Linked DNA regions of Homo sapiens: all the other regions are linked to region 1. The links come from fine-mapping of genetic effects on gene expression. A gene starts in region 1. Each other region holds a variant in brackets. All regions are shown on one strand. Distances are from middle to middle. Region 1 holds the start of TUBGCP2 (tubulin gamma complex component 2). Region 2 overlaps PAOX (polyamine oxidase). Region 3 overlaps ECHS1 (enoyl-CoA hydratase, short chain 1). Region 4 overlaps TUBGCP2 (tubulin gamma complex component 2). Region 5 holds the start of PAOX (polyamine oxidase). Region 6 holds the start of PRAP1 (proline rich acidic protein 1). Region 7 overlaps ADAM8 (ADAM metallopeptidase domain 8).

Evidence for each region. PIP is the estimated chance that this variant, and not a neighbour inherited with it, causes the effect.
Region 2: its variant is fine-mapped to the expression of TUBGCP2 in whole blood (TOPMed, PIP above 0.99).
Region 3: its variant is fine-mapped to the expression of TUBGCP2 in whole blood (INTERVAL, PIP above 0.99).
Region 4: its variant is fine-mapped to the expression of TUBGCP2 in whole blood (TOPMed, PIP above 0.99).
Region 5: its variant is fine-mapped to the expression of TUBGCP2 in whole blood (INTERVAL, PIP above 0.99).
Region 6: its variant is fine-mapped to the expression of TUBGCP2 in whole blood (INTERVAL, PIP above 0.99).
Region 7: its variant is fine-mapped to the expression of TUBGCP2 in whole blood (TOPMed, PIP above 0.99).

Annotation. Positions count from the first base shown.
Region 1 is chr10:133,306,583-133,310,644 of GRCh38, forward strand. It overlaps TUBGCP2 (tubulin gamma complex component 2), which reads right to left and starts at 2,290. Exons shown (of 18, transcript NM_006659.4): 1 at 2,241-2,290. It overlaps ZNF511-PRAP1 (ZNF511-PRAP1 readthrough), which reads left to right and starts at 2,332. Exons shown (of 9, transcript NM_001396060.1): 1 at 2,332-2,514; 2 at 2,808-2,881; 3 at 3,194-3,395; 4 at 3,582-3,706. The coding sequence starts at 2,362. It overlaps ZNF511 (zinc finger protein 511), which reads left to right and starts at 2,332. Exons shown (of 6, transcript NM_145806.4): 1 at 2,332-2,514; 2 at 2,808-2,881; 3 at 3,194-3,395; 4 at 3,582-3,706. The coding sequence starts at 2,362. RefSeq lists enhancers at 1,467-1,696, 2,420-3,115, 2,523-2,817 and a silencer at 1,927-2,776.
Region 2 is chr10:133,387,520-133,391,581 of GRCh38, forward strand. PAOX (polyamine oxidase) reads left to right here. Exons shown (of 7, transcript NM_152911.4): 5 at 1,437-1,549; 6 at 2,071-2,228; 7 at 3,793-4,062. The coding sequence ends at 3,936. Among named protein-coding and RNA genes, the nearest start is that of MTG1, 4.6 kb to the right of the region's middle. RefSeq lists silencers at 992-1,149, 1,406-1,700, 2,290-2,369 and an enhancer at 1,110-1,239. The variant T/C (reference allele first, on the strand shown) is at 1,571.
Region 3 is chr10:133,360,488-133,364,549 of GRCh38, forward strand. ECHS1 (enoyl-CoA hydratase, short chain 1) reads right to left here. Exons shown (of 8, transcript NM_004092.4): 8 at 1,998-2,446. The coding sequence ends at 2,381. Among named protein-coding and RNA genes, the nearest start is that of FUOM, 4.5 kb to the left of the region's middle. The variant G/A (reference allele first, on the strand shown) is at 2,100.
Region 4 is chr10:133,279,778-133,283,839 of GRCh38, forward strand. TUBGCP2 (tubulin gamma complex component 2) reads right to left here. Exons shown (of 18, transcript NM_006659.4): 15 at 3,301-3,444; 16 at 2,446-2,565; 17 at 1,496-1,659; 18 at 1-124. Among named protein-coding and RNA genes, the nearest start is that of ADAM8, 4.9 kb to the left of the region's middle. The variant G/A (reference allele first, on the strand shown) is at 1,871.
Region 5 is chr10:133,376,793-133,380,854 of GRCh38, forward strand. It overlaps PAOX (polyamine oxidase), which reads left to right and starts at 2,470. Exons shown (of 7, transcript NM_152911.4): 1 at 2,470-2,705; 2 at 3,207-3,693. The coding sequence starts at 2,525. LOC124902563 (a long non-coding RNA gene) reads right to left here and starts at 2,099. Exons shown (of 2, transcript XR_007062395.1): 1 at 1-2,099. RefSeq lists an enhancer at 1,563-2,062 and silencers at 2,036-2,295, 2,396-2,805. The variant G/T (reference allele first, on the strand shown) is at 2,381.
Region 6 is chr10:133,346,619-133,350,680 of GRCh38, forward strand. It overlaps ZNF511-PRAP1 (ZNF511-PRAP1 readthrough), which reads left to right. Exons shown (of 9, transcript NM_001396060.1): 6 at 3,477-3,543. It overlaps PRAP1 (proline rich acidic protein 1), which reads left to right and starts at 755. Exons shown (of 5, transcript NM_145202.5): 1 at 755-807; 2 at 3,477-3,543. The coding sequence starts at 800. RefSeq lists enhancers at 121-780, 781-1,440, 1,441-2,100. The variant G/A (reference allele first, on the strand shown) is at 1,781.
Region 7 is chr10:133,266,976-133,271,037 of GRCh38, forward strand. ADAM8 (ADAM metallopeptidase domain 8) reads right to left here. Exons shown (of 23, transcript NM_001109.5): 14 at 3,906-4,062; 15 at 3,761-3,830; 16 at 3,385-3,535; 17 at 2,922-2,999; 18 at 2,470-2,554; 19 at 1,773-1,887; 20 at 954-1,143; 21 at 377-442. Among named protein-coding and RNA genes, the nearest start is that of ADAM8, 7.9 kb to the right of the region's middle. RefSeq lists an enhancer at 3,534-4,062. The variant A/G (reference allele first, on the strand shown) is at 1,867.

The DNA.
Region 1 (4,062 bases):
CGAGACCATCCTGGCTAACATGGTGAAACCCCATCTCTACTAAAAATACAAAAAAATTAGCCGGGGGTGGTGGCGGGCGCTTGTAGTCGCAGATACTCCAGAGGCTGGGGCAGGAGAATGGCATGAACCCGAGAGGCGGAGCTTGCAGTGAGCCAAGATCACACCACTGCATTCCAGCCTGGGCAACAGAGCGAGACTCTGTCTCAAAAAATAATAATAAAAAAAATAAAAACTACCTTCAGGAAACTTCGTATCTCTTCTAGAAATAGAAGCACAGATGCCCGCACGTCATGAGTGTTCATCCCATGAGGAGCCTGCTGCTCTCCCTGAATGTGGGGACCGGGCCTCCAAGAGGGCAGCCCGTACTCGCACAGAGTCCCTCCCCCCAGAAGACCTTTGGAAAAGTCCTAGGGCAACTCTGGGGTGTCACGGTCATGGAAGGGTGCTCTCGCTACTTAGAGGGCAAGGGCGGGGGATGCTAATCATCAACAGAGCTGTCCCGCCAGAAATGCACAGCGTCCCACTGAAAACACAGCTCTGAGGAACATCTAGCCGTGGCTGCTTCTTGGAGGAACGTCTAGCCATGGCCGCTGACTTGGCCTTCTTGATGCTCCTGAATTCTTACTATTAATCACACAAACTGACAGGCCCAGCAACTGTGACTGGGAGGGACTGACGTCCTCCTCACAGAGGCTGTGAGCTACCGCAGGGACGCGTGCTGAGGGAAGCAATGCACGCATGTCACACTCCACCACGGACAAGCGGGGCACACACTCCTAGTGAGCACACACTCCAAGTGATTAAAACACAGAGGGACGTGAAAAAGAGTCTCTGTTGAGAGCTCAAAGCTAACTGTACAAATTGGTTTGAAAAATGTTATTTTACAACTTGTGGAAAATGTCAAGAGCCCAAAGGCTTTTACAGAGACAGAAAGTACAGTCATGCATCACTCAACATTCTGAGAAATGCCTGGCCAACATGGTGAAAACCAGTCTCTACCAAAAATACAAAAATTGGCCAAGCCTGGTGGCGCACACTTGTAATCCCAGCTACTTGGGAAGCTGAGGCACGAGAATCGCTTGAACCCAGCAGGCAGAGGTTGCAGTGAGCCCAGATCGCGCCACTGCACTCCAGCCTGAGCGACAGAGAGAGACACTATCTCCAAAAGAAAAAAAGAGAAACGTATGGTTACATGATTTCCTTCTGTGCGATCATCAGAGTCACTCGCAGACCTGGATGGTGTACGGCCTACAATGCACCTAAACCACCTAGAGGAGCCTCTTGCTCGTGGGCTACAAACCTGCCCAGCAGGTGGCGGTGCTGAACACTAGACAACTGTAACACAGAGATATTTGTGTATCTAAACATGGAAAAAGTACAGGGGCAGGCATGGTGGCTCACGCCTGCAGTTACAGCTCTTTGGAACGCTGAGGCAGCAGGACCACTTGAGCCCAAGAATTTGAGGCCGCAGCGATCTATCAGCTATGATCGCACCATTGCACTCCAGCCTGGGTGACAGACGAGAAAGCTAAAGCCTCTATCCGCCACTGGGCCCATTCTCTGCAGTAGATCTGAAGCGTCCACTGCTTCCCGCGTGTGTTGTCATTCACCATTTTAATTAGGTGACTCTTTACTCTGACGTCTGTCTCTCCTACAAGGCTGCCGCGCCCTCCTGTGATGCCTTCCCCCACACGCCCTGAGCACCTAGCACAGGTCCTGTGTTTCACGGGAGCTGCGGGGACTGGAGAGGTCGACAGGACCCCGACAAACCAGGAAAGGGCCTTTGAACTAAAGTAACGGGAAGTCACCCAAGGGCTTTAAATTAAAAACGGTTACAATAAAACTGGAGTCACTTTGGCTCCAGTTCGCGACTGGTTTAGAGGGAACAAGATCCAGGGACTGCAGCGGGAGACGACAGGCGGGGCAAGGCGGACGGGAGAGGGCGTGCGAGAGGGGGACCTGCGACCCGGCTTCCCAGGGCTGGGAGGGGACACCCGGGACGACCCGGAGGCCCGCTCCGCCCCGCCCCGGCTGAGTGTCGGGCCGCGGGGCAAGACGCTGGCCTGGCCGGTGCAGGCCCGAAGGGCTTCGGCCCCAGAGTTCGGGGACCGCTGCACAGCCAGAGGGAGCGCGCGGGAAGAGCCGCGTCCCGCCAGCCCCGTCGCCTCGTGGGCCCCCCCGGGCCTGGCAGTCCCCCAACCCCCTCATCACGCCCGCGCCCGCGTTCGGCCAGGACTCACCGCAGTCCCGGAGCCACAGCCCCCGCGCAGCCCCCGACGGCGGCGGAAGTGAGCGTGACGTCACGTCCGGCTCGGCTCGCGGACGGTGGCCGACAGGCTGCGCCCGCCCGCGCCCGGGGTGATGCAGTTGCCCCCCGCGCTGTGCGCCCGCCTCGCTGCGGGGCCCGGGGCGGCGGAGCCGCTGCCTGTAGAGCGGGATCCCGCGGCTGGGGCCGCGCCCTTTCGCTTCGTTGCGCGCCCCGTGCGCTTCCCGCGGGAGCACCAGTTCTTCGAGGTGCGTGAGCAAAAGAGGGAAAAAGTAGTTGTAGGATCCAGTGGGGCCTACGGCGGCGAGGCGGGGCCGGAGCCTGGAGTGGGAGGGGCCTACGACTGCGGGGCGGGGCCGGAGCCTGGGACAGGCGGGACCTGAGGTGGTGGGGCGGGGCCGGAACGTGGAGTGGGCGGGGCCTGAGGCTGTGGGGCGGGACCGGAGCGCGGGATGACTGGGGCCACGGGTGTGGGCGAGGCCTGACGCGGTGGGCGTGCCGCGAGTCACCTGGCCCCGCCCACGGCGCACTTTTCCTGCAGGATGGGGACGTGCAGCGCCACCTCTACCTCCAGGACGTGATCATGCAGGTGGCCGACGTGCCTGAGAAGCCCAGGTAAGCGAATGGGCAGTGCCTAGCCAGTGCTACTCCTGCGCCGCCTCCCTGACCGGTGCCTGGTCCCTGGGGCTGTGCTGCCGCTCTTCCATGTGCGGCCGCCCCACCGAGGCGCTGTGCCTGTCCAGCTTTGGCGTGGCCGACTCTTCCACCACCTAGCCTGTTTGTGAAACTTAATTCATAAAAAGAGGGTTTGGGATTGCAAAAGATGCATAGGGGCTTTATTGGACGTCTCAAAGGGAAACTGTGCAGAAAGTCCAGCTTGGTTCCTCGCACCGGAGGAAGGGCTCCTGAAGCACGTCTCCTTGGCAGGGTGCCCGCGTTTGCCTGCCAGGTGGCCGGCTGCTGCCAGGTGTTCGATGCCCTGGACGACTACGAGCACCACTACCACACGCTGCACGGAAATGTTTGCTCCTTTTGCAAGCGGGCCTTCCCTTCCGGACACCTGCTGGACGCCCACATCCTGGAGTGGCACGATTCGCTCTTCCAGATCCTGTCTGAGAGGCAGGACATGGTGGGTGACAACTGCACAGCCGCCGAGGCCACCCCCCATTGGTGATGGGCTCAGAGTGCTGCCCCCAGCTCTCGGGTGCTCGGGCAAGGCCGGGGACACCTTTCCGCCCTTGGCAGCTCTGCTACGGGGGCATGGCGGTGGGGGAGGGCCAGGGGTCAGAGGGAGGTGACACGGTCTCCATTTCAGTATCAGTGCTTGGTAGAAGGCTGCACAGAGAAGTTCAAGACCAGCAGAGACCGGAAGGATCACATGGTGAGGATGCACCTGTACCCCGCGGACTTCCGGTTTGATAAGCCAAAGAAAAGCAGAAGGTAGGGAGCCGCCAGGCTCAGCACGTGTCTGCTTTTGATTTTAGGAAAAGGTTTCCAACTAGCCGGAATGCATAGACGGTCAGACTTATTAAGCACTTGTGTGTCACCTAATGGGGTGTTCACCTGCAGGTACCTGAAGCCCTGGCAACACAGCTACAGGTGGTTGTGCCAGCGGCCACCCTGCCGAAGGGAGGCTGGAGGGGAGCCCCTGGCTGCCCAGCTCTGTGCCGGTGGAGGCAGCAGAGGGGGTGTGGGAATGAGCGGGCGCAGCGCCTCCGCACTCACACCCCTCTGGGCCATGCCTGTACCTCCTGCAGCAGTCGGCCGTGGTCATCCGCACTCACACCCCTCGGGGC
Region 2 (4,062 bases), 81 kb after region 1:
AGAGACACTTTGCTCATTTTCAAGAAAATGTCACCAAATACCACACCATGATTTGTCTGACTGGTGCTCTCCTGAGTTCTGAGCCTGTCTGTGAAAGACGCACCAGCCCCGCCTGGAATAGCGTGTGCTAGGTGAGTCCTCCACGGCCACCGTGCACCACGCGCAGCAGGAGTGTTCTATGCGGATCCCGCTTCTCCACGCAGATTATTATTATTTTTTGAGATGGAGTCTTACTCTGTCGCCCAGGCTGGAGAGCAGTGGCGCGATCTTGGCTCACCGCAACCTCCACCTCCCGGGTTCATGCCATTCTCCTGCCTCAACCTGCCGAGTAGCTGGGACTACAGGTGCCCGCCACCACGCCTGGCTAATTTTTGTATTTTTATTAGACAGGGCTTTACCATATTGACCAGGCTGGTCTCGAACTCCTGACCTCGTGATCCGCCCGCCTTGGCCTCCCAAAGTGCTGGGATTACAGGCCTGAGCCACTGTGCCTGGCCCTCCACGCAGATTATTAAAAAGACATGAACTCGAGGATCAAGATTTAATAAAATTAGTAACTTTTACTGCCTTTGATCAAGGACATTCTCAAGTGAAAGCAGCATTTTTATTTATTTTTTAATATATATATTTTAATTTTTATATTCAGAGGCAGGGATATACGTGCAGGTTTGTTATGTAGCTAACCGTGTATCATGGGGGCTTGTTGTACAGATTAGTTCTATCACCCAGGAATTAAACCTAGTACCCATTAGTTATTTTTCCTGCTCCTCTCCCTCCTCCCATCCTCCACTCTCCCATAGGCCCCAGTGTGTGTTCTCATCATTTAGCTCCCACTTGAAAGGGAAAACATGTGCTGTCTGCTTTTCTGTTCCTGTGTTAGTTTGCTAAGGATAATGGCCTCCAGCTCCATCCATGTCCCTGCAAAGGACATGATCTCGTTCTTTGACGGCTGCAAAAAGCAGCATTTTGTAACCCTCATGTGCAGTGGTGGGAACGCCTGTAGGCGCATGTGGATCCTGTTGCTGCCTGATTCTGCTAAGGGACGGTTTACCTGCCCTGGCTCTTGCTCAGGTGCAAATGTCGGCGTGGTGGAAACAGCAAATGCTGTCTTAGCGTCTGAAGATGGCTGTGACCTTGAGGGTCCCTGGCAGGGCCTTCGGACCCCCAGGACTTTGCCGCCCACACTCTGCGAACTGCTGCCTGAGGGACGCTCTGTGGGGTGGCTCTTTGTGCCTCTGGGGCCCCTGCTCCATCAGTGGTTCCTTGCTGAGAAACGCGGGCGGAGAGCTGGGCTGGACACTGTCATCCCGGGGCTCTCTTTCTCCATGCAGGTCTGGTCATCCCAGGGCTCTCTTTCTCCATGCAGGTCTGGTCATCCCAGGGCTCTCTTTCTCCATGCAGGTCTGGTCATCCCAGGGCTCTCTTTCTCCATGCAGGTCTGTCCACGTTCTCTGTGGGTTCATTGCCGGACTTGAGTCTGAGTTCATGGAGACTCTGTCGGATGAAGAAGTACTTCTGTGTCTCACCCAAGTGCTCCGGAGAGTGACAGGTAGGTACTCACCACACACGC[T/C]GGTTCCTGCCTCTGCTCGTTACTGGTTGATCTCTAAACAGAAACTAGACTTTGCAGAACAGAGAAAAACTAAATTTGGCTGACTCTGTACATCTCCAGGGACCATCCTTCCTCATGTTAGTGGGGTCAGTAACAGTTCTTACCTCCGAGGAACTGAAATGACTTTGCAAACACTTCCTACTTCTGCCACCAAAATAAATGCCGTTGTCCTTGATCAGATTTTTACAGAGGAGGAACCCAAGGCTCGGAAACAGTAGCTGCTGCTGTCACAGCTCCCGGGTCCCGGCCCGCTGCTGTCGGGTCAGAGGCCCCCGGGTCCCAGCCCACTGCTCTCGGGTCAGAGGCGGCAGGAAGAGCCTCTCCTGACACACTCTGCTGCTCACTTTTCTTCCTGCATAGCATCTTTCACGTTAAACTGCTCAATCTTTAAAAATGACAAAAACAGTTGCAGACCTGTGGGTGAGAGTTCTCGGTTAACATGCAGTGTCTCTGTGGCTCAGGAAACCCACGGCTCCCCGCGCCCAAGAGCGTCCTGCGGTCTCGCTGGCACAGCGCCCCGTACACTAGGGGGTCCTACAGCTACGTGGCCGTGGGCAGTACTGGGGGCGACCTGGACCTGCTGGCTCAGCCCCTCCCTGCAGACGGCGCCGGCGCCCAGGTATGTGGCGTGCCCCAGTCGGGGGGCGTGGGTCCCGCTGCAGAGGCCCCCGCCGAGTCTGGGCGCTGCAGGAGCACCAGCCAGTGGCGGGTGGGCTGGGATCCCAGACTCGGAAGCCATTTTCTTTTTGAAACTAAGAATAATTTTTAAATGTACTGTTTTTGTGAGAATTATACACACACAGCTTAAAAAGTCAGAGAATTCTGCAGTGCTAACAAAAGAAAATAAAACCAAAATGGCAGGTGGAGCCCCTTTTGCCCTTCTCAGACGGTGCTCCCAGCTGATTCTCATCGCTAAGTTTACTGCATCTCTAAAAACATGTTTCTGCTACCACGTTTTGAGATACATTTCCTGTGCAAAATGTCAAACATACTAAAGTAGGGAGAACCTTTCAGTGCCCACCAGGCTTCCCCTAAGCCAAGCTTCTCCCCGCCCACCCCCGCCCTTTTTTATTAAGCATGACTCACACAGGACATTGTCTCACCTCAGGATATTTTGGTGCCTGTTTCTAAAAGATAAAGACATCCTTGTAAAATACTTAACTATGATGCTGAGGGCAGTGGCTCACACCTGTAATCCTAGTGCTTTGGGAGGCCTAGGCAGGAGGTTTGCTGAGGCCAAGAGTTCGAGACCAGCCTGGGCAACATAGTGAGAGTCGGTCTCCACACACACACACACACACACACACACACACACACAAGTAGCCAGGCATGGTAGCATGCACCTGTAGTCCCAGCTGCTCAGGCTTGGGCCCAGGAAGTTGAGGCTGGAGTAAGCTATGACTGCACCACTGGACTCCAGCCTGGGTGTCAGAGCAAGACTCTGTCTCAGAAAACATAAAAATAAAACCATATAACTATGATACCATTTACCCACTTAAAAATTAATAATCATTCCTCAATATGATCCAATATTTAGTCACTGTTCAGTTTTCCAATCAGCTCATGGTCTCTCTTCAGTGAACCTGCTTGGAAATGTTGCTTCTTGAGTTTTCAGTTTCAGGTGTTACTAATTGACTTCTCATTACATCAGATAAGGCTGTAGCTTTCTTCCTCTGCCCACCCGACTCCCAGATCCCTCCCCCACCCTCCCCATATGTGATCCAGGAGTTGAGGCCAGATCACTATTCAGTGTTTACACCCCTTGTTTTCTCTAAAAGCTGTTCACACCTGAGCTGCGGGGTGCAGTGGCTTCCTTTCCCACCCATTGGTGGATGCGTGTGAGCCGTCTTCCCACCCGTTGGTGGATGCGTGTGAGCCGTTTTCCCGCCCGTTGGTGGATGCGTGTGAGCCGTTTTCCCGCCCGTTGGTGGATGCGTGTGAGCCGTTTTCCTGGCTGTTGATGGATACATGTGAGCTGTTTTCCTGCCCGTTGGTGGATGTGTGTGAGCTGTTTTCCTGGCTATTGGTGGGTACACGTGAGCCCTTTTCTCGTCCGTTGGTGGAGGTGTGTGAGCTGTTTTCCTGCTTCTTGGTGGATGCTTGTGAGCCATTTTCTGTGTTTCCTTGCCCAGACCCTGCTGTCTGAATTGCATCCCCATTCTAACCCTGGCTCTTCTTTGCAGCTCCAGATCCTGTTTGCGGGGGAAGCCACACATCGCACGTTTTACTCCACGACGCACGGGGCTCTGCTGTCGGGATGGAGGGAGGCCGACCGCCTCCTCAGTCTGTGGGCCCCGCAGGTGCAGCAGCCCAGGCCCAGGCTCTAGCTGGGCCCAGCCTACTCTGTTCCACCCGTGTCGGGGGTAGGCTGGGACCCTCATTTCTTCTGACAGATTTCAGTCTGGCTTGAAATTTGGGGATGTTAATGAGGGTCCTCTGGTTTTTGGTAACCA
Region 3 (4,062 bases), 54 kb after region 1:
TGTCCCCTTTGCGTGTACATGTAACCGGACACACGGGCGTGGCACCTGCAGCGTTCAGGGAACCAGAGCTCGGCAAAGATCACTGTTCTTCTTTCTTGATGCAGGTGAACCTGTCCTTGGTATTCAGCCCAAGTCCTCAGCGGTGGGGGCTCACACACTCTGCCCACCCAACCCAAGGCCATGACCACAATCTAGACCACCTACGCACACTGAGCTGCGGGGCCAAGTGGAGGAGACACCGGCAAACGCTCTCTGGCGTCTGCACTGAGCTGGGGGCAGGTGGGCTTCCCTGGGGGAAATACCTAGAACCAAGGGCATGATGACATGTCCATAGTATGAAACGTCAGGGCCACTAAAAAGAATGTTATAGGACTGTCATTTAGTGAGAAAATCAAATGGTGAAACATGCCACAACAGGCACAAACCTTCTGGACAGTATGTGCCTTAGCTTGGGCTGCTGTGATGCAGTGGCATGGTCTGGGTGGCTGATAAACACTGACTTTCCACAGTTCTGGAGGCCAAGGCTCCAGGCAGGTTCGGTGTGTGATGAGGCCCACCCTGGTTTACAGACAGCACCTTCCCACAGAGCACTCACATTGTGGGAGGGGTGAAAGAGTGCCCTCAGGGCTCTCCTAAGGGCAGTAATCCCACTGGAGGAGCTCCGCCCCCTCATAGGGCACTAATCCCACTGGAGGAGCTCCGCCCTCTCATAGGGCACTAATCCCACTCAAAGAGCTCCATCTTCTCATAGGGCAGTAATCCCACTGGAGGAGCTCCGCCCTCTCATAGGGCACTAATCTCACTGGAAGAGCTCCATCCTCTCATAGGGCACTAATCCCACTGGAAGAGCTCTGCCTTCTCTTAGGGCATTAATCCCACTGAAGGAGCTCCGCCCTCTCATAGGGCACTAATCCCACTCAAAGAGCTCCGCCCTCTCACAGGGCACTAATCCCAAAGAGCTCTGCCCCCTCATAGGGCACTAATCCCACTTGAAGAGCTCTGCCCTCATAGGGCACTAATCCCACTGGAGGAGCTCCGCCCCCTCATAGGGCACTAATCCCACTGGAGGAGCTCCACCCTCTCTCTCCTAGGACACTAAACCCACTCGAAGAGCTCTGCCCTTGTGACTAGTCATTGCCCAAAGTCCCCCCTCCTAATGCAGTCACGGTAGGGGTTAGGATTTCAACCCAGGGATTTGGGGTGGGGCTGAGTGAAATGAGCCTGACCCAAAGGGATAAATGGAGGTCCCTCCATAGAGACAGGAAGTAGAAGCGTGGGTGCCAGGAGCTGGAGGGAAGCAGAAAAGGGGTTGTTGTTTAACGGGGACAGTTTCCGTTTGGGAAAATGAAAGCTTTCTTGGATAGTCATGGCTGCACAACGAGAACGTACTTAATGCCGCTGAAATGTGCATTTGAAATGGTTCAGACCAGCCTGGGCAACACGGGGAAACCCCGTCTCTACAAAAGGTAAATTTAAACAGTCAGCTGGGTGTGGGAGTGCGCCCCTGTGGTCCCAGCTACTTGGGAGGGGGGGAGGATCACTTGAGCCCAGGAGATTCAAGCTGCAGTGAGCTGTGACTGAGCCACGCACTCCAGCCCGTCTCTAAAACACAGTGGTTAAGATGATCAAGTTGACGTCGTGTGTTCCCACAGTAGAGAAGAATGCAGTAAACTGAACAGAGAGCTCCTTATGACAGAAGTAGGAAGAAAATAGGGTGGGCTCTCGTGAGGAAAGGGCTCGACGTGAGTGGGCGTGGAAGAAAACCATAGACCATGCCTGTGCCCGTGTGCAGGGGTGTGTGGGTGCGTGCACAGAACTCTAGGAAGTCACAAGCCCAGCTGTTCACAGTGGCTACCCTGGAAGTATGATGTGAGGCAACTGACTATACAAACTTGTTTTGTTTGAATGTTGTTCCTTACAGTGAAAAAACAAAAAAGTTTAAAAAAACAACTAACATGACAGAATGCTCATTGCAGACATGACTACAAGGCGTGGTGTAATCTGAATCGCTATCACTTTAATCAGCATCTGTATGAAGGCAGCAGACAGCGTTTCCCTCAGAGCAGCCCCATTCTTCAGCGGCAGGGACACAAGGACCC[G/A]CAGGCCCCGCTTTCCGTCCGAGCACAGCATGCCCAGAGGGACCAGCGGGGGCTCCTCAGCAGAATCTTAGATTTAGAAGGTGCTCCAGTCAGGACCCTCACAGGCTGGGTGACGAAGGCTGTCATGCCGTGAGAGGTCGGGCCACGACCACGCAGCAATTGGAGAGGAACTGCACACCACGGACACTGCTCTTGAAAAGAGGATGATTTACTTGCTTCTAAAACTGACAGGCTGCACTTGTCCTCTCCAAGCAGAGGTGTGAAGCAGGGGCAGCTGGTTCTCACTGGTCTTTGAAGTTGGCCTTTCTCTTTTCCACAAACGCGGTCATCCCTTCTTTCCGGTCATCCTGGCAGGAAAAGGAACAGAAACAGAGCTGGACGCGCAGTATCCTCACAGAGCCTGATGCCAATGTCCGCCCGTCTCTCCCTGGCTCTGCCTCACTCATGCTCACAGGGGCCCAGGGGGCCGGGGAGGGGACTCAGCGGCAGGAACACCTGCCCAATCAGAGCTGGGCCTGGGCGCGGGGATTTTCACGGCCTCTCTCTACCAGTCTAGGTGACGGTCATTCAGGAGCCACTGTGTATGTCCAACAAGCTCACATCTAAAGAGCCTCAGATGCACCCATCTTGGTCACTCACCATGTCATCAACTGGATGATGGGTGGCCTGTATCAGGGGCTACTCTGTGTTGGAGTAGGACGTGAGAACTCAACTCTGCATCTGCTTTTCTTACACTGTGTGCACGTGTGTCCCCAGGTGTGCGCGCGCGCACACACACACACACACACACACACACACGCATCTGTACCCCTTCCTCAGGTGCCCAAACCACTTTTAATTTTTATTTTATAGAACAATTAAAACACCGAAGTATGACTTTCTCCCAGTGAAAGACATGAATTAAAATGGTAATCTGGCCGGGTGCAGTGGCTCACGCCTATAATCCCAGCACTGTGGGAGGCCGAGGCAGGCAGATCACTTGAGGTCAGGAGTTCAAGACCAGCCTGGCCAACATGGTGAAACTCTGTCTCTACTAAAAATACAAAAATTAGCCAGGTGTGGTGGTGGGCACCTGTAATCCCAGCTACTCGGGAGGCTGAAGCAGGAGAATCACTTGAACCCAGGAGGTGGAGGTTGCAGTGAGCTGAGATCTCACCACTGCATTCCAGCCTGGACGACCGAGCAAGACTCTGCCTCAAAGGGAAGAAAATTAAAATTATGATGGTAATTAGAGGAATTACTTTAAGTTACTGGCAGAAATCTTATAAAATATTGCTCTAAAGCTTCAGCTTATCTTATTAGAATACATTTGAGCCTATTCCAAATAATTGGAATGATCTAAAAAAACATGGGTAAAATGAGTTACATTTTTTTTTTCAGACAGAGTCTCACTCTGTCTCCCAGGCTGGAGTGCAGTGGCGTGATCTCGGCTCACTGTAATCTCCGCCTCTGGGTTCAAGCGATTCTCCTGCCTCAACTTCCAGAGTAGCTGGGATTACAGGCACCTGCCACCACGCCCGGCTAATTTTTTGGATTTTTAGTAGAGACGGGTTTCGTCATGTTGCCCAGGCTGGTTTCAAACTCCTGAGCTCAGGCAATCCACCCGCCTCAGCCTCCCAAAGTGCTGGGATTACAGGGTGAGCCACCGCGCCCGGCCTCATTTTTTAAAAAAGTCTTTTTTTTGAGACGGGGTCTTGCTTTGCTGCCCAGTTGGACTCGAACGACCCGCCTCAGCCTCCCAGGAAGCTGGGGCTACGGATGCTCGACACCCACCCGGCTGAAACTGCATTTTCAATAAAGGAGCTGCTTGAGGGTGCAATTCACAGACCTCACATAACAGGAAAAACAAGAAAAGCCCCTGTAAGGTTTCTGTACTTTTGAACTTGTACATGCTCTACTTTTTTCCTAACATCAAGACCCACTGATGGAACCAATCTGATCCCGTTAAAGGTGAGGCTGGCAG
Region 4 (4,062 bases), 27 kb before region 1:
GACTGCGACCCTGGGTGCAGGAGCCGGGGGCCCCCGCAGGACAGGCACTTGGGGGGTGGCCTTCTGGCTCCTCTCTGCAGACAGGCGCTCCAGGCGCTCCGTGTAGAAACCATTGAAGTCAAGCCTGTGAGGAAGGACAGTGGAGCTGGGGTGCACACCCCTTCTGCGGGTGCATGCTGGGCAGCAGGGGTGTGGAAGGACGGTGCAGCTAGGGTGCACACCCCTTCTGCGGGTGCGTGCTGGGCAGCAGGGGTGAGGAAGGACAGTGGAGCTGGGGCACACACTCCTTCTGCGGGTCCGTCCTGAGCAGCCCTGCTCCTACCATGGGGAAGTGTTCAGCTACAGAGACCATAAGAGGCCCTGCAGGGGTGAGGGTGAGGCACGCTCCTAACTAATGTTTCCACAGGAAGGTTTTCAGTCCTGTTCAGTCCTGCTCAAAGGCACAAACACAGGTTTCTTCTCTCCTGGCCCCAGAAAGTTGGGGCTCCCATCACCCCAACAGGGCCTAGCAATGGGGCCTGAGGTGTCAGGGGCTTGGAGAACCAAGCAGTGGTTCTCAATGCAGGGTGGCCTCAGAAATCCCTGCTCAGAAAATCAGAACATTTGTGGGGGGCACAGGGCACAGGGTGGTCCAAAAGCACAAATAGGCACCTTCCCAAGGACAGCACCCCCAAGGGCACCACCCCTTCCAGGCTGGCAGTTTGGCCACCTGGCCCTTTCCCCCAGGCTAGGTGTTAGTGCAGCATGAGGGAAGCTGACCCAGGCCTGATCAGCCCCACAGGACACACACAGCCGCAGGGTGCCAATGGGGCAGCCCAGTTGCACAGAATGTCACACCCCAGGGAGAGCTGGGCTAGCCTGACTTCAGGGAGTGGCATATGACCAGCACTAGCACCAGGACACAGACCTGCCCCACCTTCTGAAGGAGGCTACACCAGGTGGACCAGGGGAGGGTGCAGGGGAGATGGGGCCTGGATGCAGGGACAGGTGCTGAGCTGGGGTGGCGCTGGGCTGGGGCAGATGCTGGGCTGAGCTGAGGAAGGGCTGAGCCGGGGCAGGCGCTGGGCTGAGCTGGGGGAAGGCTGAGCCGGGGCAGCACTGGGCCAGGGCGGTGCTGGGCAGGGGCAGGCGCTGGGCTGAGCTGGGGGAAGGCTGAGCCGGGACAGCACTGGGCCAGGGCGGTGTTGGGCAGGGGCAGGTGCTGGACTGAGCTGAGGAAGGGCTGAGCCAGGGCGGTGCTGGGCAGGGGCAGGTGCTGGGCTGAGCTGGGGGAAGGCTGAGCCGGGGCAGCACTGGGCCAGGGCAGTGCTGGGCAGGGGCAGGTGCTGGGCTGAGCTGGGGGACGGCTGAGCAGGGACAGCACTGGGCCAGGGCGGTGTTGGGCAGGGGCAGGTGCTGGACTGAGCTGAGGAAGGGCTGAGCCAGGGCGGTGCTGGGCAGGGGCAGGCGCTGGACTGAGCTGAGGAAGGGCTGAGCCGGGGTGGCGCCCACCCACCTGGAGATGACGCTGGCCATGCCGTGCTCACAGTCACTGGTGCTATAGATGCTCAGCCGGGCCAGGAGGTCCAGCAGGTGGGCTGAGAAGTTCTTGTCAAACTTGTTGATGGTGGCCTCGAAGCCGGACACCAGCTGCACAGTGTCTGCGTGCTCAGCCAGGTGCTGGAAAGAAAGCCGGGGTGCGTGAGCCATGCCCACCCCCACCGTGGGCCTTCTTGGCTCCACACTGTTCCCAGCAGGCCGGTGTCCTTTCCCTTCCCCTTTTCTTAAATAGAAAACATGGGTTCCATGATGTTTTCAGGAGATTCAAGGTAAAAAAGACATCAAAAAACATTCCTGAGAACCCAGCACTCAGAGAAACACTCCAGGCCTC[G/A]TGGGATGAGGTGGTCACTCTCCTTTGGGGTGAGATGAACGAGCTTTCCCAGCAGCTTTCTCAGCAAGGAGGTCGGGGCGCCTCTCAGTGTCCCTCACCTCCGGCCCCCACGCTTCCAAACCCAACTCCTCTCTGCCAGCTCCAGCTCCAGCGTGTGAACACGGGACTGCCCACCCCACCATGCCACCCCGGAGCCGGCGCCGCAGGGCCATGCCTCCGAGGACATGCAGCCTGTCCGTGCCTGCTGAGAGCCTGACGGTTCTAACTCAGGACCGAGCTCAGCAGGGACAGCGGGTGTGGCCCCTGCCCTCGCCCAGGCGCCCTGCACAGCGCTCGCTCTGAAGATCTGTGGGGGTTCCCTCGAGCCCGACTGGCTGAAGTGGGGACCAGAGAGCTGAGAAGATTGTGAGAGGCTCTTGTGCTTGTGCTTGGAAGCTAATTTTAAGTCTTTTCTTCAATCTGAGGGGAGATGGAAGTAAAAGGGGGGAGGTTTGTTCTCCCTGCGTCAGGATGCCCAGGCTGCCGCCCAGCCGGGAGGAAGCGTCTCTCTCTGGCCAAACCTGGAGGCCACGCACCTTCCTGGCGAGCTCCTTCCGGGCCCGCTCCTCGGCCCCTGCGGGCAGCCCCAGGACGGTGCTGTGCTCCAGCGTCTGCCCGCCCAGCTCGCCATCTAATTTCATGCTCTGTGTAAATTTCTAGGGGGGGAGAGTCGCAAGGAAATGCTTCTGTTAGTTACAACCACAATGCTTTGCAGAAAAAACAAGTCCTGCAGGCACGTCACCCTCCGCACCTCTGTTGTAGCCTGCGGCTGGGGGTACACAAGCATCTCTGAGGCTGCAGGGGAAATGACTTATCTGTGCCGACAGAATTCCCAGGTCTACCTTCCACGGTGACCAGCTGATTTTCCTGAGAACAGTTATTTTGGTGTTTCCCTATTTGGGACCCTGAAGTGGCCATGCCCTCCTCCACCTCCCCACTCGCCCTCCTCCGGACCCTCCCCATGGCACTGCCTGGAGAGCCTCATTCTCAGACCCCTGCTTCTGCCACTAGACACGCAGGTTCTGCACCATCGCCAGTCGGCAGCTGCTTGTGACTAGTGCCTGCAGGTCCTTAACGGAATCAAATAGCTCAAGTGCTGAGGAAAAGAGCATGCAAGGGCCATAAGCAAAGGCCCCGGACAGAGACCAGCACCACAGAGGCTGAGGGATGGTTCGGGAGGAACACAGCCCTGCCCACGCTGCCAGGGCAGGGGCTCCAGGAGGGAATCACCCGGCCAGGAAGACCAGGAGTTCTGGAAACACTCAGATCCCAGCGGCTCCTCCACGAACACAAGGGCAGGAAAACGTGAGCAGGCTGCGTGCGGCCACGGTCGGGACATGGTCTGCCCACCCGCGCCTGCCCACCCGATGGTGCTACCCACACCCACGCACCTGCATGCAGTTGGTGAACATGACGCACACAGACATGAGCTTGGAGAAGACCTTCAGCAGCTCGGGGTTGGTGAGCATGCAGTCCTTCAGGCAGGTGTCCAGGAAGCCTGTGTGGTGGCCAAGGACGTCGTCAATGTTGGAGGCCTGCGGGGAACAGGCCAAGCCCCTTCTCAGAAAGACGTGGCTGACAGACGGGCCCTGCATGCGCACGTGCTCAGTTCTGGCTTTGTGCATTCCTGTTTACGCACTTCTACCTCTTAAATGGGCCTTGGGCTTTTAGGGGAAAACTTCCAAACACCACTAAAAAAATGATGGGCACACCCCGAAGGGGTTTCATTTCTTAAGGCAGAAGACAGGAAGGGAGGCTGCGGCAGCTTCTGGAATTTGGTACCAACAGATTCTGCCTTCAGGCCCCTCAGCCTCAGATGCGCAATGTGGGAGAGACAACCTCGGGGCAAAGACGGCTCAGAGTCCCCCTAGGACGGCAGGCAGCAAGGGGTCCCGTGTGTGGCCAGCAGTGTGGGTGCAGCCCCGCCCTGGGGGATCCCTTCCTCTCCCCTTGCCCTGCCTCTCCTGCACTCCGTGTCTCCCTGCACTCCCTGCCTCTCCCGCATTCCCTGCCTCTCCCGCACGCCCTGCCTCTCCCGCACTCCCTGCCTCTCCTGCACTCCCTGCGTCTCCCTGCATTCCCTGCCTCTCCTGCACTCCCTGCCTCTCCCCTCGCCCTGCCTCTCCTGCACTTCCTGTCTCCCTGTGAAAGGA
Region 5 (4,062 bases), 70 kb after region 1:
CCAGCCCCAGGTCAGCGCGTCAGCGGCCCGTGCTATTGGATTCAGGCTGTGGCACCACATCCAGGGGACAAAGAGCGCGTCGGTTGTCCCCACCCTGCAGCTCTTGGGTCCATGTCTTCTCTCTCCGCGCCATAAAGCCAGAGTTCCCATTTCAGTCACTACAATCACCCCTCCTTGCACCAGGCCTTCCAGGTGTGGGGCATGGGCATGTTTACCTCTGGCCTGTGTGGACCGCTGTGGGGAGGCTTGGCCAGCAAGTTGCTGAGCCAAGTATCTTTTATGGGATCCTGCCGCTCCACAGGAGGATCCGGGAGGCTGAACTAGAGTTAAGTTAGAATCTTTCGGTTCCCCTTCGGGCTGGGCTCCCCGCAGGAACCAGGAACGGGCTGGCCAGGAGGACATGATGGACCGGGAGAAGGTGACAGAGGCAAAGCCAGACCCTTCCTGTTCCATCTTGCAGAGGCTGTCCCAACGCGAGGTGAGGCCAGGTGCCTGGGGGACATCGATGCCTGACCAGAGCCCAGCCTGGACAGCCTTCCAGCAAAGGCTGGGCACTGGCCGACCGTAACGGCCCAGGAGAATGAGGACACGGGAGTCTCGGGGCTGGAGGAGCTGGCTGACCAGATGGTGCCTGACACGGTGCTGAAAACAGGGCAGCAGTCCCCAGAGGCTGAGGGGCCAAAGTAGCCTGTCCACCCAGAGTGGCGAGGCCCACGCCTGTGCAGGAGGCCTGAGGCATGGGGTGGCCTCCCTCACAGCTGTGCCCACCCAGCCTGTGCGCAGGGCGATGTGCTCCTATGTCTGGGCAGTGAGCTGGGCCCTGCGGCGAGAGCAGCAGCAGCTCGATTTCACACGGAGCCACTAGGGAGTGGGCCGTTCCCTTGGCCATACCCGTGGGGGACCCAGTTCATCTGTGGAATTCAGAACCCCAGAGTATTTAATCTGCCATCTCAGGACCTCCGCTGGGGAGCTGGGGCAGGTGGGTGGGTGGTCCCGCTGGGCTTCCGTGGTGCATGCCAGGGACCTCAGAATGGAGCGCCCCACTGAGCCAGCGGCTCTGCTTCAGGCCCAAGAGCAGGGAGTAAGAGAGAAGCCTGCTCAGGCAGAACAGGTGACACTCGTGGCGGGGGCTGCACCCCAAACACTTGCCATCCGACTAAGGGTGTGGGGCAGCCCTTCTTTCCTTAGTCCTGGCATGTCGGGTGGGTCAGCTTGGTGGACAGCTGGCCCTGCTGACCCGGGATCCGCCCTGGGTTCCCCATGGCCTGGAGGCAGGAGGAGATGGCCACTGCATCCAGCGTCGCCTCCTGGTGCTGCGGGCCCCTGACGGACAGAGGACGCTCGACCCCTGCCCGCCACCGCCCAGGGAGTCAGCCCGACTCCCAGGCACCCGCCCCTCTCCCTGCCTGGAGCTCAGCTCGCGGGGTTGGCTAGGGAGTGATGGGGAGTGGAATCCAGCGACACCAGGTCACCCTTCCGGGAGCCTTTTCTCCAGCTGGGACGAGAGGGAATCAAAGGAAAGTAAGACACGGCTCAGGAGGCCCACGCCGAGAGCGAAGAGTGAAGCTCACGCTGGCAAACTGGAGCGCGCGGCCCCTCGGCAGAGGACCGGGGCTCAGGAGGCGGGGACGCGCCTGAAAACAGGGCGGGAGCCTTTCCAACCCCCGCGGGCTGCGATGCAGCAGAAAACTCGGCCGCCTGCACCGGGGATTCTCCAGAAACACAGGCGTGCCTGGGTGTGCGCTCAACTTCCCGGGCGAGGGACGTTTCTGCACTTGCCCTCGGCTTCTGAACTTTGTACTTTGCGAGTGTACTTTGTACTTTGGTCCTGTGTCCCTGCAGCCCTGTGACTACACGCGCACACGCAGGCGCGCGCACACGCGAACTGACGGCTCGCTGGCGATGCTGGAGGCTTTCACAGCCCCCCTCCGGACGCGTTAAGCTCTCCCAGGTCCCACCCCTGACACCGTGGCACCCCCAGACCCACTGCGCCCTCGCACTCGACGCGGGTCCCTGGGGGAAGCGCTCGCTGCGCCCTCGTCTCCCTTGGAGGAGACACTGGCCCGCCCGGCCGGCCGGCTTCTCCCTCCATGGGGACGCTCGCGCGCACCGCCCGGCAGCGCGGGACGCTCCCTGACGCCTGTCCTCGCGGGCCCTCCCACGCGGGGCGCTTCCCTCTGAGACCCGAGCCCAGTCCGGAGGCTCGCGGAGGCCGAGGCGCACTGTGGGGCTCGGCCCGGCCCCTTCCCCGCCCCTCCCCGCCCCTCCCCGCCCCTCCCCGCGCCTCCCCGCGCCTCCCCGCGCCTCCCCGCGCCTCCCCGCCCCTCCCCGCGCCTCCCCGCCCCTCCCCGCGCCTCCCCGCCCCTCCCCGCCCCTCCCC[G/T]CCCCTCCCCGCGCCTCCCCGCGCCTCCCCGCCCCTCCCCGCCCCTCCCAGCGCCTCCCCGCCCCCTCGCTCCGCCTCCGGCCTCCTCCGAGAGCTCCAGACCTCCCGGCTACTCAGAAGCCCTCGGACTGCCCGGACCGCGCGATGGAGTCGACCGGCAGCGTCGGGGAGGCCCCGGGCGGACCCCGGGTGCTGGTGGTGGGCGGCGGCATCGCGGGGCTGGGCGCGGCGCAGAGGCTCTGCGGCCACTCCGCCTTCCCGCACCTGCGGGTCCTGGAGGCCACGGCCCGCGCCGGGGGCCGCATCCGCTCGGAGCGCTGCTTCGGTAACCGCCCCTCCCGGAGCCCCTCCCGGAACCCAACCGGCTGCGCCCGAACTCGCCGGCCCCAACCTGCCCTGCGCGCAGCCGACCTGCCCGGCCGCCTCACCGGGCTCCCCGAGGGAATCCCCGCTCGCTTAATCCGCCAGAGTTCACCGCCCCGAAACTCAGGGCTCAGAGTTAGTCAGGAGGGCGCCGGCCAGGGAAGGCGACCTACGGCTCCACAAGGCCGCCCTGATTCTGCCCCACGGGGGCCCCCCCAGCCCCGGGGTACGCCCACCCTGCGCCCCTCCCTCTGGTCCACACCGCCCGACAAGTGCCCTCCTGCCCAGGTGCTCCCCTTAAACTGGGTCTGACAGGGCCCTGCCCTGGGGGACCACAGGGCCCTTGGGGACAGTGTGGTACATCCTCCTTGGGAAGGCCAGCGTGGGCGTGGCCCAGGAGAAGGGCTCGGGGTGACCCTTCTAGGAAAGGGACCTCCAGGTGGCATCTGCTGTCCCCTCGCAGGTGGCGTGGTGGAGGTGGGCGCGCACTGGATCCATGGGCCCTCCCGGGGTAACCCCGTCTTCCAGCTGGCTGCTGAGTACGGGCTGCTGGGGGAGAAGGAGCTGTCCCAGGAGAACCAGCTGGTGGAGACCGGGGGTCACGTGGGCCTGCCCTCCGTGAGCTACGCCAGCTCCGGGGCCAGCGTGAGCCTCCAGCTGGTGGCGGAGATGGCGACTCTGTTCTACGGCCTGATAGACCAGACCCGGGAGTTCCTGCACGCTGCAGAGACCCCGGTGCCCAGCGTCGGGGAGTACCTCAAGAAGGAGATTGGCCAGCACGTGGCCGGCTGGACAGAGGATGAGGAGACCAGGAAGCTGAAGCTGGCCGTCCTGAACTCCTTCTTCAACCTGGAATGCTGTGTGAGCGGCACCCACAGCATGGACCTGGTGGCCCTGGCACCCTTTGGGGAGTATACCGTGCTGCCGGGGCTGGACTGCACCTTTTCTAAGTGCGTGCCTGAGCCCCTGCCCCGCCAGTCCTCCCACCAGGCTCCCCAGGGCACCGGGGCTGGCTGAGCTCCGCTCTTGCTTGGGTATGGGAGGGACAGGAGACCATTTGTCCTCCCCATTCCGACAGACTGGTTGCTCCTTTCCCTAGTTTTGCTCATTTAAGCCAAAAAAGTTATTTCTGAGAGAGAGTGTTTAAAAGAAGGAAAGGTAAGGCTGAGTGCGGTGGCTCACGCCTGTAATCCCAGCACTTTGGGAGGCTGAGGCAGGTGGATCATGAGGTCAGGAGTTCAAGAACAGCCTGGCCAACATGGTGAAATCCCATCTCTACTAAAAATACAAAAATTAGCCGGGCGTGATGGTGCATGCCT
Region 6 (4,062 bases), 40 kb after region 1:
CCTGCCGCAGGTGGTGGGCAGGGGCAGGTGTGACAGGCAGGTGGGCTGGGGCTGGATGGGGGATTTGTCACGCCCACCTGAGGAAGGAAGTGCTTCAGCTGAGCTGGGGACAGCTGCCCACGACACCCTTCCAAGTTGCCTTGGTTGTGAGCACGGTTCAGCCTTCATGACAAGCAGGTTTTTTTTTTTTGGTGTTGTTTTGTTTTGTTTTGTTTTTTGACTGAGTTTCGCTCTTTGTTGCCCAGGCTGGACTGCAGTGGCGCAATCTCGGCTCACTGCAACCTCCGCCTCCCAGGTTCAAGCAATTCTCCTGCCTCAGCCTCCTGAGTAGCTGGAATGACAGGAGCCCACCACCACGCCCACTTAATTTTTTTTATTTTTAGTAGAGACGGAGTTTCACTATGTTGGCCAGGCTGGTCTCAATCCCCTGACTTCAGGCAATCCACCTGCCTCAGCCTCCCAAAGTGCTGGGATTACAGGTGTGAGCCACCGCGCCCGGTCAACAAGCATGTTTTTAAAGGCAAATTTCTTCCTCAGTCGTGTGGCAGGCCCTGAGCAGGCAGCTGGGTGTCCCCGCTCAGATCCAGGCCCGAGTGGGCTGGGCGGCTGCAGAGCCAGTCACCTGAGCTACCCAGGGTGGGATCCCTGGCCCCGACCTCTGTCCTGACACGCCCCAAGCGGCAGCAACAAAGCCCCAATTGGCCTGGGCCTGGGCAGGAGGAGCTGGGCCGGGTGCCAGATACTGGGATCAGCCACTGCAGCTCCCTGAGCACTCTCTACAGAGACGCGGACCCCAGACATGAGGAGGTAATGCCACCATCCCTGAGCCCCAATCCCCACCCCACCCAAACCTGGAGGCCTGGCCCTTAGCCAGAGGGGGCCCAGCTGTGCTGCGCTCCAGGGGGCCTGGTTCAGGGGAGTGTGCGGGTGGGAGGGAGAAGGAGGGGCCCTCTGAGGGTCTGGGGTCTGCCACCAGGCTCTACCTCCTCTGTGGCCCCGAGTGCACTTGCCTCTTGGTTCCCCTGGCCTGGTGGAGAATCACCCAGGGACCCCCACCCGGAACAAGGAAAGGGGAGGTGCCAGGCTGAAACCAGCAGGCCTGTGACTGCCCAAAAGGAAGGGGGCTGGGGGAGGGGAGGGGCTGGGGCGCAGGAGCCAGGGGCTGCCCTGAGGTGGTGTCACCCTGGGAGCTGTGATCTGGAGCTCAGGGAAGCACCCGGGCTCCCGCTGGACCCTGGAATCAGAGGCTGCCTTCCTTCTGTGGGGGTGTCTGTCTTCCCCCTCCTTGTGTGGGGGACCCCTCTCCCCGCTCCTGTGGAGGTGCCCTCCTCCTCTTCCCCCTCCTCTAAGCCAGGGCCCTCCCTGCCCCTCCTCTCCTGGTGTTTCTCCCTTGTAGAGAGGTGGCTTCTGGGTAGCTTGGGGACCCTTTGGTGCCCAGAGCCGTTTGCCTGGAGAGGGGACCCACGGGGATCCCACAGCCAGGCTGCTTGGCAGTCACCACCGACCACCTTTCTAGGGGCTACCGTGACCCGAATCCCAGGCCCCCAGGCTGTGTGTCATGGGAGGTGGGCACCAGGGGTGGCCCAGGCAGCACGGCAGTGGGATTGGGGTCCAGTGCCCAGACAAGAGCCCCTGCCCAGCATCAGAACCAGCTGGGGGTCCTGAGGAGAAGCAGGGCCCCCGAACCAGACCAGACCAGGTCCCGGCCCCGGGCTGTCCGGGGCATCCCCCCTGCCCTTTGACCTCTCACCATGGCTGAGTCACCCAGAGAACGGGCAAA[G/A]GTCCCTGTGGAGCTGCAATCCAGGCCTGCAGGGTGTCCCAGACACTGATTCTTCTGCCTCAGCAGGAGTAGCTGCGATTACAGGTGTGTGCCACCACCCCCAGCTAAGTTTTGTTTTTTTTTTTTTGAGACAGAGTGTCTCGCTCTGTCGCCCAGGCTGGAGGGACTGCAGTGGCGCCATCTTGGCTCATTGAAACCTCCACCTCCCAGGTTCAAGTGATTCTCCTGCCTCAGCCTCCCAAGTAGCTGGGATTACAGGCACCTGCCACCACGCCTGGCTAATTTTTTTTTTTTTTTTTTTGTATTTTTAGTAGAGACAAGTTTTCACCATATTGGCCAGGCTGGTTTCGAATGCCTAACCTCAAGTGATCTGTTGCCTCAGCCTCCCAAAGTGCTGGGATTACAGGCGTGAGTCACCGTGCCCAGGCAGTTTCATATTTTTAGTAGAGACGGAGTTTTGCCATGTTGGCCAGGCTGGTCTCAAACTCCTGACCTCAGGTGATCTGCCCACCTCAGCCTCCCAAAGTGCTGGGATTATGGGTGTGAACCACTGCGCCTGCCCCAGACACCCTTGACTGCAGCCCTGCTGAGCCCTGTACAGACCCAGAGCCCCGCCCCACCCCAAGACCACCCCACCCTGACAGACGCAAGCCTCCCCCGCAGGGCCCTGAAGAGACAAGTCTGCACCACATCACACACGCACGCACACACAGACACACTCCCAAACCCTCACACTCTACACACCACACACGCATGCACACAGCACACACCCACCCCCAAACCCTTACGCTCCACCCCACACACAACATACATACACATCCAACACATACATGCACACACAGCACACACACACACCCAAGCCCACACACTCCACACCACACACAACATACACACACATCCACCACACACAAACACACATAACATACACACACAGCACACGCACCCCCGAACTCACACACTCCGCACCACACACAACATACACATGCACCACACACTGAAGCACACAGTGCACACACACCCGAACACGACACCACCCACAGCATACATGCACACCCACCATGCACATGGTCCACACCCACAAAACACACATGCACAGACAACATATGCACACCCCCCACCACATACACAAACACACACATCCCGTGTCCGAACTGACCTGACACCCTGCCTGCCTGCCTAATAGTGCTGCCATTCACCCCTGAGCCCCCCAGCCGTGGCCCCGCAGCTCTGGGACACAGCAGGTGCCCTGCCTGCAGCAGCGTGCAGCCTCAGGGCTCTGTGGGCGTGGGGCTGTGGGCCCTCGCTGCTCCATACCCACCCATACCCACACCCATGTGCAAGTGTGTTCATGTGTGTCCCCACGTGGAGGGCGGCACAGAGGCATGGCAGAACCTCTGGAGTTTCCAAGCCAACCACCAGTGCCTGCCACAGTGGGGTCTGCCCAGACTGTGAGGAGCAGAGTCTGGGGCTGGGGCTGTGGGCTCTGGCCTGAGGGGGGCTGGAGGCAGGTGGGCCTGGGGCTTCTCCCTGTTCTGTGCCTGCGTGTCTTGGCCCATGTGAGCACAGTCCAGTAAAACTACCTGCGCTCCCAAGGAGGAACCCAGCCCAGGCCTCCCAGCTGCCCATCAGGGTGCTGCCTGGAGTTCAGGGCGTCCCCTTCCCCTACCTCACACTTCCCTCTCTGGCCCCCCCTCAGGCTCCTCCTGGTCACCAGCCTGGTGGTTGTGCTGCTGTGGGAGGCAGGTGCAGTCCCAGCACCCAAGGTAGGTGTGAGCCCCTCCCATCTGGGCAGCAACTCCAGTTGTCACCTTCTGCCCCTACAGCAGGGGATGTGGACAAAGGGCCCCTCTTCTGGCTTCAAACCCCAAGCTGGCTTAGGGGAGAGAGGCATGGGTACGCTCATGACTCTTGATGCCTGTGCAGGCATGAGGAGGGGGCAGGCTTCCCTTCCCTGGGGTCAGATGGACAGGCCTCAAGACACCCAGGTGGTCCTAGGTGGATGATGTGGGTCCAGATGAGCCCACATGACCCCAGGTGGACGAGGTGGGTCCAGATGAGCCCCCGTGACCCCAGGTGGAGGAGGTGGGCCCGGATGACACCCACGTGGTCCCAAGTGGAACAGGTGATCCCAGATGAACCCATGTGACCCAGGTGGAGGAGGGCCCGGATGACACCCCTTGATACTCACCTGGGCCTTGAAGGCCAGAGGTGACTCCATGTGCTAGTGGCTCAGCTGCACTGTCTGTGCTGACAGTGGTGTCCTCAGCCGGGACTATGCCTGG
Region 7 (4,062 bases), 40 kb before region 1:
AGGGAAGCGCGGAACGTGTCCCTGCCCTGAGCCCACCCACCCATCTGTCCTGCAGGGCCCCAGGGAGTCCTCTTCTCTGCCAGAGCTTCAGCTCTGGGAGGGGCTTGGTGGGCGGAGCAGGTCTGAGTGGAAGGAGAAGGAGCCAGGACCCCCAAACCAGCTCCAACGCAGGGCAGGACTGAGCTCCTGCCTTCCTGTGGCCTCGCTGACCTGCCTTTCTGTCTGATGTCCTCACGAGGTCGGGCTAACCAGCCTTCTGTGTACAGCAGGGGCCACCTGGGGATCCCTGGCCCCCGGTGCAGTGCACAGACCCCAATCCCATCAGGAAGGCCTGGACACCCTCAGAAGGCTTGGCCGCCCAATCACCACTGCTCACCTGCTTTGGTGCCTGCCGGGTGTAGACAGGAACTGGGAAGGGTGGGCTGGACACAGTGACCGGAGGCTGGAGGAGACAGGGCCGAGAGCCTGGGTCAGAGCTGGGACCCCCGTGCCCCTCCAGCACCCCCAGCTCCAGGATCCGAGGTTCCTGCCTCTTGTGTGTGCTGGAGGCGTCTGCGCGGCCCACAGGGCCCCACCCCAGATGAGAGGCCCCGCCCCATTCCTCCCCTCAGCCGTGTGATCCCGAGCTGGGGGCCGGAGAGCATTTGTGTCTCGACACTGTCCTCAGATGGGCTCTGTGGAGGCCAGGAAGCTTCCCTGGGCTGGGAGCCCCCAAGTTTAAGTTCAAGCTCAGATTCTATCATGGCTCAAAGGGGTCTGGGAAGTGCCCACTCCCAAAGCCTCAGTGTTCCCAGCAGGGCGACCACAGCAGCTGCTCTGGGCCTCGGGGCCACCGCTGGCCTGTGCGTGAATTTAATGAAAGGGCTCTGCTGGCCTCGGGCTGCACTTGGGGTCGCAGGATGGGGCCTGGGCACTGCTTTCGGCCTCATGAACCCGCCAGGGGTGGTGCTTACAGCAGGGGGCGGCCTCTTCAGAGCCACCGAGGAGGCCGGGTGTCGGGCGGGCTGGCCCGGGTGGGTGGTGGGGACCAGCTCTTGGGGGCCCCTGGATGGGGCTGGAGCCCCGCCCTTGGCCGGCACGCGGCTGGCAGCCTGGTGGAACAGGGGGTTGGAGCGCCCCATTGTGGTCTTGGGAGCCACGTTCCTGGGGAGGAAGCACAGGGCGCATGGTCAGTGTCCGGCCATGGGGCCCCAGCACCACACCCCGAGTCTCTCCCTCCCAGCTCCAGCCGACCCGAGAGGCTTCAGGGCGAGAGGTTGTGGCCATGAGAGACAGACAGGCCCAGGAGGTGGGGCGGACCCTGAAGAGGCAGGGACACCCCCTCCATGTCCTGGGGGCCCCAGTCAGGTGGGCGGGAGATGCTTGGAGGCTGTGGGGCCAGTGTGTCCTGCTGCGTGGGGGTCTCCTGCTGTGTGGGGGTCCAGGTCCCTAGAGCAGGGCTCAGCAGGAAACTGGCAGGGTGCTCACGGGGCTGGGTCAGGGTATGGGGGACCCCACCGGGCCTCTCTGGATTTGCCCCAAGCCCAACCGGCCACCAAAACCATGCCCCGCCCCAGCCTCAGGGGAAGGTGGAGTCCAGAGTGGCACTGGCCGAGTGGAGCCAGGAAGGCCCTTCAAACTCAGCCCAAGCCGGGGGGCGTCATGACGTCGGGGCACAGAGGAGCCTGGGTGTCCGTGCCGTCCACCATGGGCCCGTGCTGGGCACTCCTTCCTCTGGCAGCTGAGCACGGGAAGCACTCGCCACCCTCCGTCACAGCCCCCACCACCCTCACCTGCTCAGGATGCGGCTCCGGGCTTTGCGGTAGACGATGATGCCTGCCAGGGTGACCAGCACAACTGCCAGGAGCACCAGAACCACCACCACGA[A/G]GACGGGGAGGCTCCCGGACGCTGTGGGACACACGGCCCCACATCAGGCAGGCAGGCCGCGACCTCAGGCAGGAGCCAGGGAGGTTCCCAGAGACACGGTCTTTCTCAGCACCCCCAGGCTGTGCCCTGTGGACCCCTCAGGGAGGACCTGGTACCTTACACTGGCACTCCCAGCTTGCCAGTGACAGGTTGGAGAGCTTGGCAGGGTGGCCCTGGGCCACAGTGCTGTGGGCACGGCTGTGCCTTTGAGGCCTGATGCTCTGGACGACCACATGCTCAGTGGCCGCCGGGGAGGAAATGCTGGGTGGCCTCAGGGCCCCGGGCCGAGGAGGGGCTGGAAGACACAGGCTGAGGACACTGGAGTCTCAGCTCACGGCCGTGCCCTGCCCTCGGCCACTGCCTCCCTCTGGGACAGGGCTCTCCCCTCCTCACATCAGCCTGGGGACAGACAGGCTCTGCCTATACCTGTGTGTCGATGCCTGTGGCAGCAAACTGGCACCGTGAACACCACCAGCTTCCCGGGCCCGCGGCTTCTGCCTGGGCTCTGTTCGGGCCCTCTGAGCTTGGACCCCAGCCCCACCTGCGCTGGCCAGGGAGGCCTACCTGCGTGCACCTCAGTCAGCAGCTTCGCGCAGTGGGGCGGGGCCCAGCCCGCGTGGCAGTGGCACTCCTGCTTGTGGTTGCACACCTGCGGGGACGGCTGGGCTCAGGGCCAACCCTGTTGTGGACCCCAAGGGGCCGTGGGGGCCGTGCCTCCAGCATGAGGGCCCCGGGCCAGCCCCACCCCCGAGGGCCCCTCGGTCCCTGCCCACATGCGCCGACGGCGAGGCCTCTCCATGTAGCCCCTGCCCGCTGCCCGGTGACCATGCAGGTTCCATCCACGGAGGCCACCCAGGCCGGGCCTCAGCCGACAGGGGCTCCACAGAGACCCCCATGGACAGGACACGCCAGGCTCCCCCAGCCTCAGGCTCCCGTGTCCAGAGCTGTCCCCAGCACCGGCTCCCTCAGAGCGGCAGCCTCTGTGCAGGGGCCCTGTCCCGAGAGGCCACACATACCCCATGGTTGTGGCACTGGGCAGAGCAGTTGCTGGATCTGTAAACGTGTAAGTCCTGGCAACGTCCTTTCCAGCAAACCTGGGGGTAGGAGGCGTCTCTCAGGCAGCCGCTCTGGACCTCTGCCCCGCCAGCGTCCCTTGAAACTGCATGGTAAGCTGGGGGTGGGCTGTGGTCACCACGTCCAAGGTGGCTGTGCTTCAGCCCATCTGCCGGCTGCCTACCCCCAAAGCCCCTGGGAAGTGGCCCTCCTGGGGCACGTGGCCGCCGGCGACGGCCATCAGATGAACTGAGAACCATGTCTCTCCCCACCCCCGGAAACCTTTCAGTCTCTACTAGAAGCGCGGAGAGAACTCTGTTCCCATGGCCTCGAGCAGCTGCCAAGCTCAGAAACGCATCTGCACCCACGTGGGGCACATGCCCGGGATGCCTGGGGGGTGGCGCGGCCTCTGAGCCAGGGGCTCACCTTCTCTGGTCCACACCGGGTGCCCTCGGGCACTGGTTCATACGCAGTGCCATCCTCTGTGGTGAGCGCGTGGCACACATCCACGATGCAGATGGCACGCCCCAGGGGCTGCTGCCCACCCTTGCACTGCAGAACGCCACACATGTCAGCCCTGTGGATGGACGGCAGGTCGTGGGCCAGCTTGCCTGGGAGCATGCTGGGGAGCCCAGGAGCCACAGTGACCCACCTCCCTCCCACAACACGGTGCGCTTGAGCCTGGGGTCCATGGGTCCAGAGCAGACCCTCATGGGAGCAGGACCCTTTGCAGAGGCCCTTCTGGGGCTGACCCCGCTGTGGGAACAGCACATGTCCTGGGCCCAGGGCGGTCTCAGCTCACCTGTACCGGCTGGCCTTGCAGCCTGGTAGGATGTCATAGGAGAAGCAGGACTCCTCGGCAGCCTGCCCACCTGTGGGACCAGAAGCGGGTTAGCCCTGGCAAGGCCTGCAGCCACCCTGCCAGGCCAGCTCTGTGCCCACTTCACCTGGCCCCCAGAAGGCCTGGCACTGCTGGGCCAGTGTGGGACAGGCCCCGTTGTAGCAGTAGCCCCCGGAGCAGGGCGTGCCGTTCTCCTGGAAGGCGTCTTCCGGGCACTCAGGGTGCCGGCCGTCACAGAACTCCTCGAGGTCACACATGTCCTT